Regions from separate parts of the Homo sapiens genome. Here region 2 is linked to region 1. Evidence: fine-mapped expression QTL. A gene starts in region 1. The other region holds a variant in brackets. All regions are shown on one strand. Distances are from middle to middle. Region 1 holds the start of ALDH1A2 (aldehyde dehydrogenase 1 family member A2). Region 2 overlaps LIPC (lipase C, hepatic type).

Region 1 (2,911 bases):
AGATCACAGTGAGCTGTCACGGTGCCACTGCATTCCAGCCTGAGTGAAGGAGTGAGACCCTGTCTCTTCAAACAAAACAAAAAGACGAGAATCACAGTGTTGCTTGGTAGTGTAGAAAAAGCGTTTATCAACACTGTAGGCCCCTGTCAAGCTTACATTTGGAGTGAGGAGTAAGGAAGGGAAGGGACTTATGCAGGTCTTTCCATGCGGCCTTGATTTAGTCCACGGAGTCCAAAGCCCATTCTGAGGCAGGGTCTCTAGGTTCTTGGTTTACACCTGCAGGCCGATCCACAGACTAGAGGGCAGCTTGTTAGACTTTGGAAACACTTAGATTAGGGGGGAGATGGAAACTCAATCCCAAAGGGACAGTAAAATGAGCCTAAGGTCTGGCGGGACGATAGCTCTTAGCGTGTAAGGAACAACAGAAAAACAAAATAGTGTTTCTGTGGGTGTGCTGGGTGAGGAGGGGAAACAGCCGGAAGAGGGGATCCGAGAAGAACTAAAGGAGCCCACGAAGCATGCAGCTCCTCGGAGGAGCCGGGGATGATCACTGCCCATATCCTCCCGCCACAGCGCAAGCCGCCCGGGCGGTCCCGGCCGGCAGAGGGCAGCAACTGGGCGGGCGACGCCTGGCAAGGGCCGCCCCGCGCTGACCCGCTCGCAGGGATCCTCATTCTGAGCCCGAGGCGAGGGGGACTCGCACCCACTGCCACCTCTCCCTGACCCTCTGGCCACCATGCACCTCGGCCCGGCTGAGGGGAGTCGGGGGGTCGGGGGAGAGGGCGTAGCTGCCGAGAGCCTGGCGCCCCTGCCCGGAGGAGGAGAACGGAGGACGCCCTCCCGGGTCTCCGGAAAGGAAGGGGGACGGGGTTCGGTGGGTCCTGGGACGGGGATGGGAGGGAACGTGGGCGAGCTGGGAGCCGCCCTCCGCAGCCTGGACTTTCCTGGCCTTTCTCTACTCCGAAGCAGCACCGGGCCGCTCCGGTCCCCGCCAGCCCCTGCCAGCTCCGCTTCCGGGGGCCACGACCCTCGCTCGACTTCGGCCGCTGTGCGCCTCCCGCCGACTCTGACCCAGGGACCCGGAGACCAAGTCCGGCTGGCCGAGGCCCGCGGGCCGCGGCGCAAGTTCCGCTCCCACCGTCGAGGACTGTGGAGGCGGCGTGGGCTGGTCTCCGCGGCCGGGGGGCGGGAGCGCCGGGCGGACTTGACCGTGGGCGCCAAGCGTCCCGGCCGCGCGGCGCGGGCTTTATGTAAATGGAGGCTGCGCCGGGCGTCCTAGGTAGGATGGACCAGCCCCCCGCGCCTCGGCCCTCACGTCCAATAAGAAGAGCCCCAGCTTGACACCTGCCTATATACAGGCGAGCGCGCCCCCGGGCCGCGGACCGCGCGCACAGCCCGCACTGCCCCACGCCGCGGGCTAGGGACACCCGGCCCGCCACCATGACTTCCAGCAAGATAGAGATGCCCGGCGAGGTGAAGGCCGACCCCGCCGCCCTCATGGCGTCGCTGCACCTCCTGCCGTCGCCCACGCCCAATCTCGAAATTAAGTACACCAAGGTAAGCGGCCGCCCAGCGCCCGTCGTCCACGGAGACTTTCTAGAACCTTCTTCGGTTTCCCCGATCTCTTCAGCGGGTGAGGGCTGCGGGACGGGGCCGGGGTCGTCGGGGCCAGCCTGTCATCCCGGCGCAGCAGAGGGACCCCCTGCCTGTCTTCGGGACTGGGGCGTTTGAAGCCCCGCCGTGGTCTGAGGACGCCTTGGGGACTTAACCCAACCCGAAGCGCAGCGTTGAGGGGCAGCCGTCAACGGCTCCTGCCCCGGACTCTGAGGCTGGTTTCTGTCCGATTCTCCCGGTCCCGACTGCCGCGGGGGAAGGCGTCGGAACCGCTTAGTATCCTCAGATGGAGGCCGGGGTTCCCCGTCAGCTTGGCCACGCAGCCTGGCCGTCGCCTCTCGGTCCTCCGCCTTCCGGGCCCCTCGGCTGTTGGTCCCAATCAGGTCCTCCACAGCCCGGAGGGTGCTGAGGGGCTTTCCCGTAAGGAATTGTCAAGACACCAGCGCTCTGGCCGGTTTGACAAATTTCACGGAAACCTGACTGATAAGTACAGTAACTCCAACGTCAGCGTTTCATGTGAATTTTGTAGGCAGCGGCAGTTTCCCTGGGAAACTTAAAAAGTTTTAATATTTGTTAGCATGTTCGGTTTTGAACTGAAGAACTTACTTTTTTTTTTTTATAACGAACGTTGACATCTTGGGTTTGCTAAGCAGGATTTTTGTTGTTGCATCGCCTAAAAAAGAATATGCGTCTGCTACCTAATATAAAATGAATTTACTTTCCACAAATTCGACATAGAAAAAAAATGATCGATTACAAACGTAGGGGTATTGTAATGTTACAACATTTTGAGGGAGGTGGTGAGAGAGAGATGGGATTGAAAACCACGTTTCTTGGAGTTCATTTTGTAGTTCTCTGGTTTGATTTTCTAGTCCTTTCGGTACATTTCTACACTCAACTTCTCCCAATTAACGCAAACGCATAGACGCACATGCATATGGTTAAAGGTTGATTAAAGATGTATTCCATCGTGCTTTTTTACAAGATAAATTTTGTAGAGAAGTAAATTGTTTGCATCTGGCTTAGTGGTTGAATGAGATATACAAGAAACAACATCAGAATATTGAGATTTTACTTGCATTGAGTTTTAGGTTACAAATCAGGGCGATTTGTGTTTTGAATGTCGATTTAGATGGATTTAATGTACCTGCTAGCTTTTTTAGATGGTGTGACAAATTTTTCAAAGCCGTTTTAATGAGAGGTCGTTAATGGTTATAACCTTTTAGGCATTGTTTGCATAACAATAGTGCCAATGTGTGGCACTTGTCTGGGTTTAGGAACGAGCAGGGAAAGCATG
Region 2 (2,911 bases), 440 kb before region 1:
TGATGGTTACTCTAATGATGAATATCAAATTTATGCCTCACCTCTGTCTCTGTGCCTTTTTATGTGCAAATAATGAGTTAGTCTTTTCAAAAACCTTCTGAATGGAAATTAAGCTCAAGCCATGCACTGCCACTCAAAAAGGCAAGCAAGTCAACTGAAGCGATGGCAGTTAAGAGCCCTTTTTATCAATGTCACAACCATGCCCTAGCCCACAGCATTGTAAGATATATTCCACATTCAAAGATATTAAATAGGAACAACAGTGGACCTTACAACTGAAGACATAAAGTATCTGTTTCCCATACCAGGGAGCTGTGTCCTTGTCTATTGTGTCTTCCACCCTATGCCCAGTACCTAGCACCATGTTGGCATTCAGAAGGTACTCAGCAAATACATGTTTAGTAATGGAGAAAACAATACAATTCTGCGCATGTACATTTTATTAACAGTGGAACTGGATAAAGTCTTATGGAATGAAATAGTATATAAATAGCTTCTTCTTTTTCTAAACTCTTTTTTTTTTTAATGATTCAATAGATCCAATGGTACAAAAACCCCTTTCTTATAAAATTTTTTAATTGGTGATACCAGTTATAACAACTAAAATTTTGACTGGTAAATATAATAATAGATATCCATTGACAGCATTCCTATCATATTATGTAATTTTGTATAACACTTGTCTGTTTCTAAATGCAGACATGATATCACTAGTAATAGGGACAGAAGTGATTCTTGGTCACCAAGCAGGGTAAATTTGGGAGTATAGGAAACAATTTCATCCATGTAAATGATGTGGCAAAACACTGCGTATACAGAGAGTCCTGGCTTACTGGGGAGTTGGTAAGCCATAGTATGGCTATTATATGTTAAAAAAAAGAATAAAGATTGTGTTTGGGAAATGAATTTTGCAGGGAAAAATAGAAAATTATATTTATTTACTGAACACCTATTAGGTTAGCACGTGGTCTTTTAATCTTCACAGCAATCCTTGGAGTAGATAGCTTTGCTTCATTTTGCAAATGGGGAACCTGAGACTCAGAGAGAGTAACCTGCCTGTGGCTAGTAGGTAGTTGCTCCAGTATTCCAATTTCAGTCTTCTTGATTCTACAGCAATTGCTTTTCCAACCATTCTATGCTGACTCAGAAAACCTGAGAGTTTCGGAATACCTAATAGGAGTTAATGAACATTTAGGAAGACTGGGGCCAGCCCTGGAGGTGGAGTGGAGAAAGTGGCTCATCATCTGAGGAGGAATCAAGCTGGTGACATTGATGGATTCTATTCTATCTAAACCATTCACAGTGGATTGATGTATTTCCCAGACAACACTGAGGAGAATGTGTGGATTTGGGTACAATAACAAGAGAGGATTCTGGTGATATGTTCCCACAATTGCCTGCATACATATCCTCTTCATTTTGCTTTATTTGGCTCAGTTTTGTTCCTTCATTCCTTTAGCAGTTCTTAAAAGAGCTACTGTATAAGGTTTGCTTTGATACAGGACAAATACATTGGGATGTTGTGAATGAGGGAGCTCTGCCTACAAGTAGTACTCAACAGAGAGGCTGGGTGAGAAGCCTAGGAGAGAAGAAAGGATGCACAGAAGAATACTAAAAAATTAAAAAAAAAAAGTAGCAGGAATGAAGGGTTGAAAAACCCACAGCCCTTTCACCAAGGTCAGGTTGGTTGGTTCTTCCTGCACAGTGCTGGAGAGGGCAGAAGGATGTGAATGCGGAGGAAAAGGTGTC[CAA/A]AAAAAAACTGGGACTAATGAGAACCTTGTTGGGGACTATGTCAGTCGTAAGGACTCTCCCTCAGCCCCCAGCATAGAGTTTGGGGATGAATACATTTTTGTTTCAGAGCAAAGTTGATACATCCAAATGTTCCCATATTAACTAATTTGTTCAGTTCAATACTAATAAAGGGATGGAGGGGGGTCGGCCTATAGGAGAGGAAAAGAACCAGCTAGGAAAGGCGTTTCGTATTTTATCAAAGTATGTGGGTTAATGATCTCCCTACCTCCAAAATGACCACAGCGAGTAAGACTCGCTGAATCCTGTGTTCAGGTCATTTGTCATGAGAGGAACTGGACTGGACTAATATTGCTTTGGGGATGATCGGCTTAATTTGACTATGGGGTGGCAGTTGTTGGGGCTCAGCAACTGTTACCCCAAAATATGGTGCTTTGACATGCTGAAATAAGAAGAGCCTCAGGGTCTCTCTGATCTTCACTCCCTACCCCCCACCCTTGGCCCTACCCCATCTCTCAATTCTTCATCTCTCCCAAAGCTCTGGATGAAGTTGTTCTCTTCATCCCTTATCTGCCTAAAGTCTGGAAATACCAAGGAAGAAAGCAATTACCTCTAGTCTCCTCCCTGAGTTTTCATCAACTGAACCCATATCACAGGAAGAAAGACTGAAGTCTGTCAACACACCTGGACAGTATTTTGTCACAAACCATCGTCTTCTGTTTTGGTGCTCATTCAGTATTTCAAAGAGAATCATTTACCAGCCCTTGTCTGCTCTGAAGTCCCAACAGACTTCGTCCATGGCCATTGTAAGTTCCCCAAGTCCACTCGTCTCCCCCTAAAAATCATTTACCATCCCTCAAATTGCCACATTTCCCCCATCTCCCCTTCCCCTATGAAGAAGGGTTAATGGGTAATTGTTCTCTATGGATCCTCCAGTGCTAGACATGTTAAAATAAATTCGTATGCCTTTTCTTCTACTAATCTGTCTTCTGTGAGTTTTCAGTGAGCTTTCAGAGGGCAAAGGGGAAGCTTTCCCTTAGCCTCTACACAGTGCCTGGTGGAGTATGGAAAAAGGTCGCTAGCCAGCTACCCTTTCTGTATTCCAGAATTGTACAAGCTGAAATTTGTCCTAGAGGCCACTCTCACCTTATTATAAGAGGGA

What was found. PIP is the estimated chance that this variant, and not a neighbour inherited with it, causes the effect.
Region 2: its variant is fine-mapped to the expression of ALDH1A2 in whole blood (INTERVAL, PIP 0.91).

Annotation. Positions count from the first base shown.
Region 1 is chr15:58,064,180-58,067,090 of GRCh38, reverse strand. It overlaps ALDH1A2 (aldehyde dehydrogenase 1 family member A2), which reads left to right and starts at 1,380. Exons shown (of 13, transcript NM_003888.4): 1 at 1,380-1,557. The coding sequence starts at 1,441. It overlaps ALDH1A2-AS1 (ALDH1A2 antisense RNA 1), which reads right to left and starts at 1,866. Exons shown (of 3, transcript NR_147215.1): 1 at 1,349-1,866; 2 at 157-276. RefSeq lists a silencer at 525-714 and enhancers at 1,323-1,842, 1,843-2,362.
Region 2 is chr15:58,507,573-58,510,483 of GRCh38, reverse strand. The region is part of intron 1 of LIPC (lipase C, hepatic type); the gene reads right to left. Among named protein-coding and RNA genes, the nearest start is that of LIPC-AS1, 10 kb to the right of the region's middle. The variant CAA/A (reference allele first, on the strand shown) is at 1,750.